2 separate regions of the Homo sapiens genome follow, and region 1 is linked to region 2. Evidence: fine-mapped QTL for protein levels in blood plasma. A gene starts in region 2. The other region holds a variant in brackets. All regions are shown on one strand. Distances are from middle to middle.

Evidence for each region. PIP is the posterior inclusion probability: the model's chance that the variant is causal. Sun 2018 read protein levels with aptamers (SomaScan).
Region 1: its variant is fine-mapped to the plasma level of the CEL protein (Sun 2018, PIP 0.95).

The regions. Positions count from the first base shown.
Region 1 is chr9:133,139,498-133,148,009 of GRCh38, reverse strand. It overlaps a transcript of RALGDS not described here. Among named protein-coding and RNA genes, the nearest start is that of GBGT1, 20 kb to the left of the region's middle. RefSeq lists silencers at 3,245-3,364, 3,395-3,494 and enhancers at 3,641-4,200, 4,653-4,742, 4,793-4,922, 5,322-5,371, 5,422-5,701. The variant A/G (reference allele first, on the strand shown) is at 4,212.
Region 2 is chr9:133,058,006-133,066,005 of GRCh38, reverse strand. CEL (carboxyl ester lipase) reads right to left here and starts at 4,025. Exons shown (of 11, transcript NM_001807.6): 1 at 3,938-4,025; 2 at 1,452-1,602; 3 at 1,244-1,366; 4 at 769-966. The coding sequence starts at 4,003. GTF3C5 (general transcription factor IIIC subunit 5) reads right to left here. Exons shown (of 11, transcript NM_012087.4): 11 at 7,503-8,000. LOC124902325 reads left to right here and starts at 4,674. Exons shown (of 2, transcript XM_047424377.1): 1 at 4,674-5,257; 2 at 7,832-7,925. The coding sequence starts at 4,674. The coding sequence ends at 7,925. RefSeq lists enhancers at 4,310-5,062, 5,063-5,814.

The DNA.
Region 1 (8,512 bases), 82 kb before region 2:
CTGGACAACTCTTGTGGGACAAGACTGTCCTTGTTGGAGCCTCAGGGTTCTTATTTGGAAGTGGGGCCAGAGCCGTTGCCCTGGTTGGAGTGAGGAGGCCTCACGAGTGAACTGGACACCCCAGGACCAGCAGAGGGAAAGAGGGGAGCAAATGAAGCTTCTGAGGCGCCTTGAATTACCCCTGGAGCCTGCAGGTTCTGCTCCTTTGACCCCCTGGGACTCAGGAGAGCTGCTACCTTGACAACACCCAAACAAAGGTGTGTGTTTTGTTTTCTGGGTTTTCTGCCTGAGGCTGCTGCTGCTGTGCTAGTGCCGGCCACCAGGGGGAGGCAGTGCCCACTGTACTCATTGGAGCAACTGGAGTCAGGGAGAGCCCGGCAGGGTCCCTCTGGGGGACCCCGGCCTCTACCCAATGCACACCCCCCATTACTAGCATCCCTCTCCACAATGTTAGCTGCTCAGAGGCGGGAGGGGGCTCCAAGAGCTTCCTCTTTCCCTTCAGCAGGTGTGCCCAAGCACTCACCCTGGGTTGTGGGGGGGCAGCGTTGGGCTTGGGTGTGGCTCTGAAAGTGACCCAGGGGGGCCTGCCCTCCAGAGCTGGCAGTCTGGAGGGGGCGATGGACAGGGCACAAAAGCAAACAGGCACAGAAAGGAAAAAGCAGTGCTGCAGCGAAAATAATGCCGGGGCTGCCATGGAGGGCTGGGGCCTGCTGGGTGGGGATCTGAGAGGTCTCGCTAAGGGGACATCTGTGCTGTGACCAGAAGACAAAGCATGGGCCAGCCCTGCACGAGTCTGGACAGTGTGATGGAGAAGGCTCAGCAGGCAGGGCTGGGAGGCAGAAATGAGTTTGGCCAGAGAGGAGTGAGAAAGGAGGCCAGTGTGGCCCAAGTGAGCTGGGGGTGGGAGGGGCAGCCCAGGGGCCTGTGGACAGCTATGTGACAACACTACCCTAATGTACAGCTTCCAGCAACAGACATTGATCATCACACAGTTTCTGTGGACCCAGATCCAGGGCAGCTCAGCTGGGTGCCTCTGCCCCCAGGTCTCAAGGGAGGCTGGGACTGGGGTCTCATCCATGGCTGGACTGGGCAGGACCCGCCCCCAGGCCATTCTCATGTTATTGGCAGGATTCAGTTTTGACTGAGGGCATCAGTTCTTCTGTGACTGTTGGTGGGGGCCCTCCCTTGGTTCACTGCCATGTGGGTCTCTCTGTAGGGCAGGCAGCTCACGGCATCAGAACTCACTTCCCCAGAGTGAGGGGTGAAGGTGGGGAGGAAAACAAGAGCAAACAAGCAAGACAGAAGTCATAGTTTTTTGTAAATCTTGGAAGTGACCTCACATCACCTGTGCTGTGTTCTGTTGGTGAGAAGCCAGTCACTAAATCCAATCACCCTCGGAGGAAGGGGATCACTCAGCAACTTATGTACCAGGAGGCAGGGATCTCTGGGGCCAGTGTGGAGGCTGCCTGGGACAGTGTCTGAGAGGAGGCAGTCAGGCCTGATTCTAAACATAACGGAGGCTGGGCGCGGTGGCTCACACCTGTAATCTCAGCATTTTGGGAGGCCGAGGCGGGTGGATCACCTGAGGTCAGGAGTTCAACACCAGCCTGGCCAACGTGGTGAAACCCCGTCTCTACAAAAAAGAAATACAAAAATTAGCTGGGTGTCTCGGCAGGTGCCTATAATCCCAGCTACTCCGGAGGCTGAGGCAGGAAAATCACTTGAACCTGGGAGGTGATGAGTGCAGTGAGCCAAGATCATGCCACTGCACTCCAGCCTGGGCGACGGAGCCAGACCCTGTCTCAATAAACAAACGAACAAACAAACAAACAAACATCATGGGAGCCATTGGAAGGTGTTCCCATTGGAAGATGCTCCCATATGCCACAGGGGGCCGATATCTGATTTTTGCTTCATTTTCAACCCGTTCATGGTGCAAATGAGGAAACCAGACCAAGAAGGGAGTGACTTTCCCCAGATCACAGCACCAGTGCCCAGCCTGTCCGACTTGTATTCCGGGCTGTGTCTCGCCCCTGTGAGAAGTTTCTTTCCTCACAGTTGTAAAGGCCAGAGGTCCAAAATCCAGGGGTCAGCAGGACCCTGCAGTCTCTGAAGGCCCTTTTCCTTCCTAATCCTTCCATCTCTAAGTCTGTGAGGCAGCTAACAGGTTTTGTAGTATTGTCTCACATTAGCGTGGTGATGTCCCCAGGAAGTAGACGTTAGAACCATCCCCATTGTGCAGGTCAGGAGACTGGGGAGGCCCTGAAAGGCACAATGGCTAGTTTGGGGTCACAGAACTGGCAAGAGGCAGGAGCTTGGTGACCCAGATGGCTTCCCCTCTCTGAGCCTCAGGGGCTGGGAGCATGAGAACACACTGGTTGGCTGTCCCAGCTCCCAGGGTGGCTGTGAGTACCTGGAAGTGCCCCTTGTCTCCCCTCACACATCTGCCATCACTCTCCCCATTTCCTTAACCCCCAGCACTGCTGCCACTTGATTTTTACGAACATCTGAATATGACGAACATACAGATTTTTACGAACATCTGAATATGACGAAGTAGCAAAGGTGGATATTCACTCATTCATTTCGTATCTGTCTCCTGGGCCCAGGCCATGCCGGGGCGGGGGGTGGGGGTAACAAGAATCCGGGGAGTTGCCAGGGGAAGGGGAAGTGCTCATCTGGGGAGTGCGTGGGCACAGAGAGATTCCAGAAGGAGGTGTCCTGTGGTCGTGGTTGATTCGTGGAGGGGAGGTGTGGTGATGGCACAGAGGGTGATGACTGGGACCAGTGTCTATCGGGTCAGCTTCCTGGGCTGCTGTCACAAAGTGCTGGGTGGCTCAACACAACAGAAATGTATTCTCTCACAGTTCTAAAGGCCAGAAGTCCAAAATCCAGGGGTCAGCAAGGCCATGCTGTCTCTGAAGGTTCTAGGAGAGGATACTTCCTTGCATCTTCCAACCTCTGGTGGCTGCCAGTTTCCTTGGCATTCGTTCCTGGTTTTGTAGACGTGTGACTGCAAACTGTGCCTTCATCAGTTCGTGTCTGTCCGCCTGTGCGTGTCTGTCCAATTTTCCCTGTTATCATAAGGATAGCAGTCATTGGATTAAGGCCCACCCTAATCCAGTATGACCTCATCCGGATTCTATCCGCACAGACCCTATTTCCAAATAAGATCTCATTCACGGGTACCAGAGATCTTTTTGTTCAGGGACACAGTTCAACCCGTAACAGGAGTATTGGGAATGATCCCCCTCCCAAAGGCCGGGTACCCGCGTGCCTACGGGGACTAGGGGAGCAGCGGGGAGTCGGAAGACATCGCAGGAACCCAGCCCCCAGCCAGGGGGTGTGGGGGCGTGAGCGGAGCCCGCCTGCTCCTCAGCTTGGCGCGCTCTGGCGGCAGCACCAGCAGGTGGCGCTGTGCCCTCCCGTGCGGCCGCCCAGCCCGGCGCGGAGCTGCCGCAGACAAAGGTCTCGCTTTCGGGTCGCGAGGAGCTTGCGCACAGCTGTAAACAGGCCAGGGGCACGGCCACCTCATGGGTGACACACACGGGAGGAAATCAAACCAGGCGGGGCCGAGGCGGGGTGACTGGGTGGCGACTTTGCGTCGGAGGCCGGCGGGGGGCGGAGGAGGAGGTGACAGGGGTGGCGAGGAGGACCATGGTTTGCAGACCGTGGTGTCAGCGGGGCGGAAAGGAAGGCAGGGAGGAGGGATAGGGGACCTGCGAGGCTGCAGGGGCCAGGAGTTTGCCTTTCGTTTGGTTCCTCGCCTGCAAGCTGAGCCGGCCTTTCTCAGGCCTCTCCAGAGGCCGTGCGGCTGATGACACTGCGGTTTGCAGATAGCTCTCCTGTTACTGCAGGCCCAGGTCTGCGGGTGCTCGGAAGGCAGCCCTGGGCACGGGTGGGCTGTCTGTGCAGATAGAGACTTGAGGGGTCCTTCCCCCCAACCCCAGCCCCAGACCCTGCCTCAGGGGAGCTGGGATGCCTGAGGTGGTCCTGCTGCTCCTGGTGGGGGTCAGCACAGCCCCTCAGAGGCGCCTTTGATATACAAAGGGGCGAGGCAGTGTGGGGCTGAGGAGCAGGGGTCAGGTCCCCGCCATGGAGCTGCTCACATGGCATCAGCGAAAGGGAGCGGAGTGCACAGCGGGCCGCTGGCCCAGGAGTGGAATGAGTGGAAGCCATTCCTTTATTTTATTATTATTATTATTATTATT[A/G]TTATTATTATTGTTGTTGTTGTTGTTATTATTATTATTATTATTATTATTATTATTATTGAGACAGGGTCTTGCTCTGTGGCCCAGGCTGCAGTGCAGGGGCCAGATCACGGCTCACTGCGTCCTCGACCTCCTGGGCTCAGACCTCCAGAGTAGCTGGGGCGGCAGGTGCACGCCAACACTCCCAGCTAATTTTTGGATTTTTTTTGTAGAAACAGTTTCACCATGTTGCCCAGGCTGGTCTCAAACACCTGGGCTCAAGGGATTCCCCCCGCCTCGGCCTCCCAAACTGCTAGGATTAAAGGCTTGAGACACTGCATCCAGCAAGAGGCCATTTCTTACTGTCACCTCCCTACCCGCACAAGGCCCTCCCACCACCTCCTCGCTCACCGAGCTACCAGGCCCGCCCCTGAGGCTGCTGGTCCTTGACAGTTGGTTCAGCGATTGATTCACACAGCAGATACTGGCCTCTGTACACCTGGCTGGCGCTGGGTGCCTGGCCTGTGGGAAGCACCCTGGCTTCTGTGGAAGGCTCAGGGGTATGGGGCAGACAGATCTTGTGGAGAAGGCATGGGCTGCGAGCCTGGGGACCTGGATTCAGTGGCCACTCTGCCATCAGTGGCGTGGTCAGTCACCATTGCACGCTAGCCACAGGACTATTCTCCACAGAGTCCTTCCCTCTGTCCCCTGCTGCAGAGGTGCCTGGTGATGACAGCCAGCCTGTAGGCCTTGTGCTAAAGTGTCCCTTGTATCTGCTCAGCACTCTGCAAGATAAGTGCCACTGCCATCCTCACTTCCAGGTGGGGAAACTGAGGCACTGGAAGGGGAAGGAACTCCCACAGCTAGGTAGTGGCAGCTTGGCAATGGCGCCTCCCCGTGTGCACACAAGCCTGGGAAGGGCCAGGCACCAGGACCACATTCCTTCCAATTACAGTGGCCTTCCAACGGTCAGGGCTGGGCCCGGCTGCTGGGCAGGGCGGGGCTGGGAGGCCCTAGGCCCCAAGTGGTGGTTAATGGCGGCAAGGAGACATAAACAGAGCTAATGAGCCCCTTTCATCGTCTCCCTGCTCTAATGAAGGCCTTGGACTCTGGGCTTTGCATTTTGGGGGTTCTTGATTCTGGAGCCTCAAAGAGTCTTAGGGCCAGGGGTATGTGGGCCCCCCCATAGGGGTGGGGTGTGAGCTTATGGACTCCCAGTGTCCCCTCCCAGGGCAGCCAAGCCAGGGTGAGGAAGTGGAGAGGAAAGGGAACGGGAAGCATTGTGGCATCCCCCTAAGAATGACAAGCCCCAGAAAAAAGGGAGTGTTCCCGTGGCAACCCAGAGCAGTTGCTTGGCAACTGCTGGCCCCCAAAATACTTGCCTGCAGGAAGGCTCCGGGCTGGGGCTTTCCGATGGGCTTTCCGATGGCTCACTTCCAACCCCCACCAGCGCACACCCACCCCTGGCCCAAAAAGAAGACTCTGAGGCTGAAAGAGAAAATGCAGAGACCAGGGTCCAGGACCTTCATTAGAGCCTGGGGAGGAAGGGGCCTGACCTGCTGAGTTTCCTCAGATACTTCTCATGGCCCTCCACCCTGACACAGGACCCAGTAGACTCTGCCCCTGGATCCTTCCTGAGGGACACCCCAGTCCACTCCCCCCTCCCCATCTCCCCACTCTGCCAGCCACCCGGCATCAAGCCAGTCCCCTAGCAACAGAGGCCGCTTCCTGGATACCTGAGTGAGAGTTGACAGTGGCAGAATGTCAGAAAACGCAAGGTCAGAAAGCACAGCGATGGCTCGGTGCCAGCCAGAGTGTGTGGGGCCATGGGGTACCACGTGTGGTACCGTGTGCTTTGCCGCCCTGCAGCCGTGGGCTCCCTGGCCTGGGGCTGGATGGCATGCCAGGTTGTGGTTGGGCTGGGTACAGCCCTTGGAACAGGGGACTGTGGTTCTGGGCCAACTTTGATACCGACTGACTATGTGACCTTAGTGTGTCCCTTCTCGCTGGCCTCAGTTTCCCCATTGGTGGCCCATCTACCCCTCTGCCTGTGTGTTTACCGTTCAGTGCATAAACATTGCCCTGTGAATTATGTCACCTACTGGGGCCTTGGGGCAGGAGAGTGAGGGGACCAGGACCAGGCCGCCACTGCCCTTCCTCCTCACATGTCGGCATCCACCTCGGCCATCAGGCCCCTGGTCCTCAGGTGAGGCAGGTGGCTTTGGAGCAGGACACCTGGGTCCAAATTCCAGCTCAGCGCTTATTGCTGGGCATCCTAGAAGCAGCACAGGTCCCCTCTGAGCCTCCCTGTCTGCCCTGAGGTCCCCGCAGTTGCTGTGAGGGTGTAAGAAAGCCCTGCCCTTGGGCTCCCATAGGGGCTGCCTTAGTTTGTGGGCACCCACCCTGCACCCAGACTTGGGCACTGCGGGAGCCGAGGTGAGAACATGGATGAGGGGTGTCCAGCCTGGAAGGAGCGAGGTGGAGCCCCAGACCCTGGGAGAGGGTGGGGCAGTAGAATGGTGGGAAAAGGCAGGTGGGGCCACACTGCCCAGTGGGTTGGACTTTGGGGATGGGAAGGCTATGAGACCTGGTTGCCTCAGATGTTCTCTCTGGGGATGGCAGTGAGGGTAGGACTGTTGGTGACAACTCTGCAGGAACTCCCGGTGCTCTCATGGAGCCAGGATGCCAGTCTGACCCTGGTCATTTGCTCACTGTGTGACCCTGGGTCATGATTTCACCCCTCTGAGCCTCCCTTGCCCCATCTGTCAAATGGGCAAGGGGTGTGCCCACCTCCGGAGTTGGGTACTGGGCTCGTATGTTCACTTGGGGGTCGTCGGCTGGGCTCAGGGTGATCCCATGGGGACTCTGCCCAGCCACCCCCAGCTGGAGTGCCACAGGAGGAGGGGCAGGGCAGAGGGCAGCACAGACAGTGGCGGGGAGCTGCCGGCCCACAGCCCAAGGTGCGTGCAGCCCCGGCCCACGTTCTTGCCGGATGCCACGCCAAGAAGGCGGGCGGATGAGGCGAGCCCCCAGCCCAGCACCAAGGAACAGGCTGCAGGAAGCCAGTTGGTGGGAGGGAAGATTCAGGCACACAGCCCCACCCACCCTGCGTGGGTGCTGCACTAAGGACCTTCCCCACCCCCTCCCCCACGTTGGCCTCCCCTCCCTGCACTGCATGGTGGGCACATAATTAACTGAATTGAGCTGCCCAGTCCTTCTGGGAAGGATAAGGGGGGCCGGGACCCACTGCCTGCTGGAGGGCACCCCAGTCCTTCCCTCTTTCTAGGTTAGGGTCCAGAAAGGGCTCCCATGGGAAGGGTGCAGGACCTCTCTGCTGGACACCACCCGAGAGGTCAGGTGTGCCCATCTGACCTTTGTGTTCCGAGGGAGGAAGGCAGGGAGGGGTGGGCTTGTCCAGTGGAGAGAAAGAAGAAAGCACCCTTGGCCAACCAGAGGCCCTGAGTCCAGGAACTTCCCCCACCTCTGGCACCCGCCCCTCTTGGGACTTTGTCCTGATCCCAGATGTGTGTGTGGGGGGGTGCCCTTTGCCTGTAATGTAAGTTCAAAACTGGGAGGGTGGGACCGTGGGGAGGGTGGGACCATGGGGAGGGTGGCAGAAGGTATTTAAGTCCTGGGGGCTGCCACCACCTGACCTGAATCCATTCCAAAGGGATTCCCGCTCCCACCCCACCCCACCCCACCCCTGCTGGGCTATAGCTGCAGCAGCACTTATCTGTCCCGATGATCAAGTGATCAGCTGATTAATCACCTGACTAGTGCTGTCATCTGTCACGATGTTCACCAGGAACAGCAGCCGCAGGGAAGTTCGGGCTGTCTAGAGGTCAAGGGGAGAGAAGCCTGGGAGGTGGGATGGGAGCCCTGGCTTGGCCTCAGGGGACCCAGACAAGTGGGTTCCTTAACTCCTCTGTACCCCCATTGCCTCCTCTGTGGGCCTACGGATGTGGGGGAGTATGAGATGTTCCTGAGGCCCCTGGCACCGCATGGGCAGGCCCTCCGCAGATGGCAGCCAATGTCTGCTCCGCTTCGCAGAAGGGAGATGGCCGATGGCCCACCAGCTCCCGCTGCCCTTGGGGAGCCAGGGTGTGGGTGGAGGGCAGGGACACTTGCAGGCCCTAAGTTGAATCCACAGGTTTTTTTCAGGTAGGGGAACTACGGCCCCGAGGAGGCGAGTAAGTTGCCCAGGCCACGCATCCCACTCTCCCCCGACCCCCTTCTTCCCTGAGGCCAAGTTCCAGGCCCTGCTGCCCAGTTGACAGGACTGGAGTTCAAGGGTGAAGCAGTCCACCTGGCCCCAGGCCCTG
Region 2 (8,000 bases):
CACTCTGTCGCCCAGGCTGGAGTGCAGTGGCACGACCACGGCTCACTGCAGCTTTGAACCCCTGGGCTCAAGCGATCCTTCCACCTCTGCCTCCCAGGTAGCTGAGGACAGAGGCATGAGATACCACGCCTGGCTATTTTTTTTTTTTTTTTTTTTTTTGAGACAGAGTTTTACTCTTGTTCTCCAGGCTGGAGTGCAGTGGCATGATCTCGGCTCACCGCAACCTCCGCCTCCTGAGTTCAAGCGATTCTCCTGCCTCAGCCTCCCGAGTAGCTGGGATTACAGGCAAGCGCCACCACGCCTGGCTAATTTTGTATTTTTAGTAGAGAAGAGGTTTCTCCATTTTAGTCAGGCTGGTCTCAAACTCCTGACCTCAGGTGATCTACCCACCTTGGGCTCCCAACGTGCTGGGATTACAGGGGTGAGCCGCCGCGCCCAGTCCCCAGCTAATTTTTAATTTTTGTGTAGAGATGGGGGTCTCCCAGTGATTTTCAGGCTGGTCTTGAACTTCTGCGCTCAAGTGACCCACCTGTGTGGGCCTCCTAAAGTGCTGGGATTACAGGCGTGAGCCATCTCTCCCGGCCTCTGCAGCATCTTTTATTTTACTACAGCTACCAAGGGCCTCCTGCATCTCATGATTCTACTCCAGCTTCCGGGTCTTTCTGTGAACCGCCACTGGTTGTTTGGGGTGAGGGGTGCTGAGGAAAATCTCCCTGCTGGGCTCAGCATGCTGGTCGCCCCACCTCAGGGCCGAAGGCACCCACGCACCTGGCAGATTGGCGTCCCCAGTGCTGAGGAACCCAAGGGGGCCGACACGGTAGTTGAAGGTGACCACGATGACGTTTCCGCGTGTGGCGATCTCCTCGCCGTCATACAGGTAGTTGTTGAGGAAGTTGGCCCCATGGCCGGACCCCATGAGGAAGGCGCCTCCATAGATCCAGATCATAACGGGCAGGTCCCGGGAGACTGAGATGGGGGAGCGGCTGGTGACCCCAGACGCCCCGCCTGGCCCTGTCTCCAGCCGGTCCCCTGTCCCTGTGCAGCAGGTGCCTGGGGCCAAGACAGGGAGGTGCTCCAAGGCGCTGCCCTGCCCCAGGCTGGGCAACGGCAGTGGGCGCTCCCCTCCCCGCCTCTGTGGGATTTCATGGAAGTTCAGCTTTGCAGCCCCCAGACTCAAGCCAGGAGTAGACCCGGGGCAGTGGCTGCATGGGAGGGTCCCTTGGGGAGTAGAGGGGAGGCAGACCTTGCTTCCTGCCCTGGGGCACCCAAATGTTGAGGTACAGGCAGTCTTCATCCCCGTAGGTGCTGTCCTGGGTGATGGTGGCCTGCAGGCATCTCTTCTTGAAGTTCTTGGCCTTCAGGGTCCCTGCAGGTGGCAGGAGTTGGCATGAGGAAGGCAGCCGCCCTCACCCGCCCCGCCGCAGGGCCAGTCCGGCACCACCCACTCCCACCTTGCCAGCCAGGATGTGGCTGAGGATTTTCCAGGGCCTTGGTGGGAGCTGCGAAGGGGATGCCCTTGAAGATGTCCACAGAGTCACCCAGGAGGCCGAGCTTCTTATTGACGCCTTCCACGAACCCACCTTCTGTGTACACGGCGCCCAGCTGCGAGGGAGACACGGGCAGGGTCAGGGGGGCTCAAGCCCCATCGGCCTGAATCCGGAGGGGGCAAGGCAAGCCGACTCCGCGTGCCCAGAGGCAAAGACAGCTTCAAAGCAGGACAGCTCTGCACAGGAGACCCAGGCAGCACCCCCTGCCCTGCAATGCTCAGGGCTTTAGGATTCCTGTTCCTCTCCTTATCCCTGGGGGTGTCCTGCTCCCAGAATCTTAGAGGAAACTGGTTCAACCAGTGTTCCCACTAGGGAAGCCGGCCAAGAGGTGGGATGGAGGTTTGGGTTCTGGCTATGGCCGCCCAGCTTTGACTCCGATCCTCAGTTTCCCCATGTGGAAGACGAGCAACAGCCGTGTCTCCTGTCGGCCTGTTTGCCATCACATGGGAGGCCTGTCCAGCTCCCGGGAGGAGTGTACCCAATGCTCAGTGTACCCGGGATGTTTCACACCAACCTTCCTCCTTTCTGAGGGGTGGGGCCTGCTTTTCCCTCCTCCCATCTCCCTGCACAGGGCCTAGCTGGCTGGGCACAAAGTCGATGGCCCCATGCCCAAGTCCCCACAGTTCCTGAGCCCCCTGCTGGTAAAGAACCCCCTAGGGACCACACCTCCCACCCCCGCCACGCTTCCCTGTGCCATGAAAATGGCCTCTGTGCACCAAGCTGTCCACCCCCACGAGGGGCCTGGAGGTTGGTGCTCATCCACCCTCTGTCCCTGACGGAACTGAGGCTGGGCAGCTTTTGGGCTTGAAGTCACCCTGTTGAGAAGCAGCTGTCTGCCCCAGTGCCACCTCCTGTCCATCTTGGGCAGCAGCTCCCTCTTCCCGTGGTGCATGGTGGGACCAGGTCATTGCTTGCTGGCTGTCACCTGTGCCAGGTTCCAGGTGGGGAAGGGCAGGGTGGCCCTACACCCCCAGGCCCAGCCAGGGTCCCAGCAGCCCTCTGAAGTCTAGGGTGATGGGCCCCCTGTCACACTGGTGTGGGAGAGTGCGGCGGTTGGAACTGGAGGAAAGGAACCAGAAGCAACACATGCAGGCATCGTGGGCATCCCCTGCGAGGCATCTGTGTCTCCTTGTGCCAGTGGCGTGATCCCTGTGCAATTGAGACTGGCCAGAGGGCCTCAGGGTGGGGAAATGGGGAGGGGTCGTGATGACCTGCCGAAGGCCTCTCAGCACCCCAAGAAGAGCTCGCCCAAGAAGAAGGTGACCTCTCCTTTGAGTCAGGAGCCCAGGACCACTGCCCAAACCTCCCGGTCCCAGGGCCAGGGAGTGTGGAGAGCAGGCAGCAGAGGTGGAGACAGGAGTCCCCAGGGCCTGAGACACCGCAGGCGGCAGAACAGCGTGGTTGGGATCTGGGGTCCCCTGTGTGACTCCTGCTGGGGGCAGGGACTGGGCCGGGCACCGACACCGGCTTCCTGTGGGGCTTGGGGTTTCTGTGGCTTCTCCTTCACAGGCAGAGAGGGTAGAATTTATGGATGCCTCGAGAGAGCTCCTGCCTGCCGGCTCTCTTTCTGGAGGGACCCGGACCCGGGTGTGGAGTAGCTCGGCTTTCAGCTTCCTGCACAGGAATAGGAGGCAGCAGCTGTGCCATGCTGGGCAAACTGCCTGCCTGCTTCTCTCCACCCGTCTGCCTGCTCTCCACACTCCCTGCCCCTGGGCCCGTTTCCCCTTCTGTAAAATGGGAACAACAGAGAGGTGGAATCACCAGGATTAGCAAATGTAAATTCAAGAGGCCCAGTTACATTTGAATTTCAGGTAAACAGTGAATTGTTTTTTAGTATGTTTCATTTTTTTCTTTTTCTATTTTTTGAGACAGAGTCTCGCCCTGTCACCCAGGCTGGAGTGCAGTAGCGTGATCTCAGCTCACCGCAATCTCCACCTCCCAGCTTCAAGCGGTTCTCCTGCCTCAGCCTCCCGAGTAGCTGGGATTACAGGCACCCACCACCACGCCCGATTAATATTTGTATTTTTAGTAGAGACGGGGTTTCACCATGTTGGCCAGGCTGGTCTCCAACTCCTGACCTCAAGTGATCCACCCACCTCGGCCTCCCAAACTGGTGGGATTGCAGGTGTGAGCCACTGCGCCCGGCCCATAGAAATTTGTTTCAAATATTGCATGGGACATACTTACACAGCAGTTCTTGGCAGTTTATCTGAAATTCAAATGGAATTGGGCATCCTGTGTTCTACCTGGCACCTGTCCCCATAGAAATGAGCGTGAGTGCCCGGGATCTGCTGCGGGGCTGTGCTGGGCTCTTTCTCAGCCTGGCCCGAAGTTTCCAGATCTGATTGAGCGAGAGAGCAGCAGGACCTGCCCCTCTGCTGGGCTCTTACCTTCGCGGCACTCGCCACTGCCCAGCAGCAGGTGAGGCCCAACACAACCAGTTGCAGGCGCCCCATGGTGAGCATCAGCCTCTGGGTGGCCCTCCCCCTGGGCCTCGGGTATTTATGGAGCTGGATCCAAGGTCACATGCTTGTTCATGAGCTCTCAGGCACTCCCTCCCCTCTACCCCCTCAGGTGCAGGGAGATCCAGTTTTCCCCAAACCCACAGTGCACCTGTGCAGGTTACCACTTACCTGGGAGCAGAGGCAGGTGGCAAGGTGGCGGGTGGTAAGGGGGATGGTGGGGCCGGGCAGGGTGCACAGTGCCCTGCCTTCTGGTTTGTTCACAGGGCTTGGTGTCACTGTCAGAGAAAAGGGCATACTTTGTCTCCATGTCTCCATGCCCTGCTTGTCCCCTAGGTCCCCAAAGGGGCTTCAGAGGGGACCGAGCACGTGACTTCTGGGACAGAAAGGGCAGCATGCTGCAGGCCCTCCACTCATGTGGCTGACCTTATCTGTACGAGCTTTTCCTGGGGCCCGTGGAGCGGGTAGTCCAAGCTGGGTGCGAATCCCAGAGCAGCACAAGGCAGTCCCACTCAAGGGTGTGGAAGTGTCACCATCCAGCCTGATGTGTCCTGGGAGGGAGGACTAGAGGCTCAGGGGGTGTGGGTGGGGGGGTGCGGAGGCATCTAGCCCAACCATGTAGGTTTCCCTGTGGAAACAAAGGGCCCAGCCGAGGCCCTGGGGCATGCCCAGGCAGAGTGACAGAAGGGGAGGGAAAGAGGCCAGTGGGAGGGAAGGGAGAAGGTCGTGTGAGGTTGTGGAGGAGGAGGCGACTCGTATTTTCTGTGAACAGGTATTAATCCTGGAGCCAGGAAAGGCTCTGAGAAGTGAAAGAACACCACGAACAAAGTCTTCAGATGGGGCCTTTAAGCTCAGCCAGTGTGAGGTCACCCTCACCGAGACACTCAGTGGCAGCTCCAGCCACCGCACAGCCCTCTGCAGTGATGGGAACAGGGTGAGGGCAGCCAGAGCCTTCCCACCCAACAGTCCCCCAGGAGACACTGGGGCCTGTGCTTCCCACACCAACCACACTCCCGTTCTGCCACCCCTGCGGCCGGTGCCAGGGACCGAGTGGACCTGCAGAGCCACGTCTGTCCCTCTGTCTGTCGACCACAGCCGGTGCCAGCAATTCAGGAGGCCTAGTGGGCGAGGGAGGCTGGGGAAAGGACTGGAGGGTGGGAGGAGGAGCTCGGCCACAGGAAATAAGGGGCCTGCAGGTGGCTGGGGCGCCCCAGGGCAAAGGCATTTGCCTCAGACCTTTGCTGCAGTGTCATTTACAGTGGCTAAGGAGGAAAGGGGAGGGCAGAGGGGAGGCAGCAGGGAGAGGAAGGAGGTGGGGGAGGGCTGGGGCAGGGCAGAGGGAAAGGAAGGCCCCAGTTTATATCTATGTACATTTTTAGAGCAGCTTTAGGTTCACAGCAAAATTAGAGGAAGATTACAGAGATTTCCCGTATGTCCTCGCCCCACTCCAGTCTCCCCCGTTATCAACATCCCCCACCAGGGGGTACAGCTGTTAACACCTGATGAATCCACATTGACATGTCATTATCACCCGGAGTCCACAGAGGTTTTTTGTTTGTTTGTTTTTTTGAGACAGGGTCTCTGTCACCCAGGCTAGAGTGCAGTGGCACAATCATAGCTCACTGCAGTCTTGAACTCCTGGGTTCGAGGGATCCTCCTGCTTTAGCCTCTGAAGTAGCTGGGATTACAGGCGTGCGCCATCACACCCAGCCGATTTTTGTATTTTTAGTAGAGACTGGGTTTCACCATGTTGGCCAGGCTGGTCTCAAACTCCTGAGCTCAAGTGATCTGCCCGCCTCAGCCTCCCAAAGTGCTGGGATTACAGGCATGAGCCACCGTGCCCAGCCTCATACTTTATTTTTTTAAAATTGGCAAAAAAAAAAAAAAAAAACTTATTTCCTGGCTCTGTCTCTTCCAAAGCCCTAGCAGTAACGAAATCCCAGGAGCAAGCCCCACCCCTGGTGACCAGACTGGGGTCTCTAAACACCATATTCACACCGACTGAGTGCACCCTGGGGAGATGGTTGGGCCGGGTCCGCAACAGGAAATGCCAGGGAGGGGCTGGAGCCTGCAGCATCGTGGTAGCTGTAAGTAAGGAAGGTGCCCAAGACCCAAGGCTTGTGTCAAAGGACTACAGAGGTCAACCTGAGGCCGCCTCTGGGCAAAGATAGACAAGTTGGGCATGAAAAAGCAAGCCTGCAATTGACAGACGTGAGAGTTCACCAGGCAGCCCAGGAAACACGCTCTCCACCCCCTCCTGCCCTGTCACTGGCCCTTGCCAGGGCACTAACTCATTGTTCTGAAAACTGTTAGAGGTGATAACAGGCATTTTCCCTTCTTTTCTGTGAAAATAGTATTTCAGGGTAATCAAACAGACGATGAGGAAGATTCCTTTATAGGATTCCAGCTACTAAATGCAGAGGGAACGATATAATTCAAAAAAATCACCATTTTGCACCCTTAAGGAAGTAGTAGGTCCAGGCAATTATCAACGGCTATTCAAAAGCCATTAAATAGGCTGGACGCAGTGGCTCACACCTGTAATCCCAGTACTTTGGAAGGCTGAGGCGGGAGGATCCCTTGAGCCCAGCCTGGACAACATTAGTGAGACCTCATCTCTACAAAAATTCAAAAATTATCTGGGCATGGCGGTACACAACCTGTAGTTCCAGCTACTCAGGAGGCTGAGGTGGAAGGATCACCCGAGCCCAGGAGGTTGAGGCTGCAGTGAGCCCTGATTGCATCACTGCACTCCAACCTGGGTGACAAAGCAAGACCATCTCAAAAAAAAAAAAAAGACCCACAAATGAAACAAAAAACCACAGAAACCCAAAAACCGTTAGATAAAAGACCAACACATCAGGCTGACAACACCTAAACCTGCTGGTCAATCCTAGTAAGCAGACCTCCCGTGCATGCAGACTGACGCAGCCTAGGAAGAGACCTTGAACCCGAATCTGGCTGAGCCTCCACCTGTCCCCAGGAAATACAGGGGAGAGAGGAGCAGGTTCAGCACCACACAGAAGCAACCAGCCAATCCAGAACAGGGCCATTCTCTGACAACTGACTGTTTCTTCAACAAATACTCGGCACGCACACAGGTTGGGAGGGAGTGCTGCTGCCGACTTGGGGAGACACAAGAGGTGCCTCAGCCAAGGGCAACATGGGGAGCGGGGCCAGGCAGGCAGGCTCGGTGGGCTCAGGACCCACTAGTTTCACACTGGGCAGCCACAGGACAGCAGGGCCCGTTTCCCATGACTTTGTCAAGAAGGTATTCATTTAGAGAAGAACTGACCCCAGGCCTGGAGTCCTCCTAGCTGCCCTCACCCAACCCGACCACATGTGAGGGGGGCACAGGCCAGCACTGCCAGCATGTCACTGAATGAATGAAGGAATGAATGAAGGAATATATGAAGGGACAAAGGGGGCCCAAGCCCCAAGGCAATAAGAAGACTCCCCTGCAGCGCCAACATTCACACCAAGAAACCAAGACTTCTCGGGAAACTGGTTTAATAAGGACAATTCCAGAGGGGCCTGGCTGTGGCCAAAGCTGTGCCAAACGGTTGGGATCCAGAGCTAAAGGCACTTCTTGCCACGTGAGACCATGGGCGAGGCTCCCCACGCTATCTCCACCACCACAGTCATGAGAGCCAAGCGAGACTGGCCTGTGGCCTGGGGCTCCACAGCTGCCCAGCTCCACCTCCGGCATTTACTGGTCTCATCCTGAGAGGCATTGGGTGCCCACTCACTGGCTGGATGCTGGGCTGGTTCATGGGTGGCAGAGCCAGGGTATACCCTTTGGGGATGTCCCTAACCCCTCAGGACCAGAGGCAGCACCAAGCAGCATGTCACAGCCAGTGCTAGGGTCAGCTGCACCCTTTGCTGGGACTCTAGCTCTCCTCAGAGGGCCTCCTAGGGCCATTCCGGGCACTGTGGGTGGCAATGGGGAGCCCCGGCTCCCTCATTAGGCCAGACACCAGTCTGGCCGGGT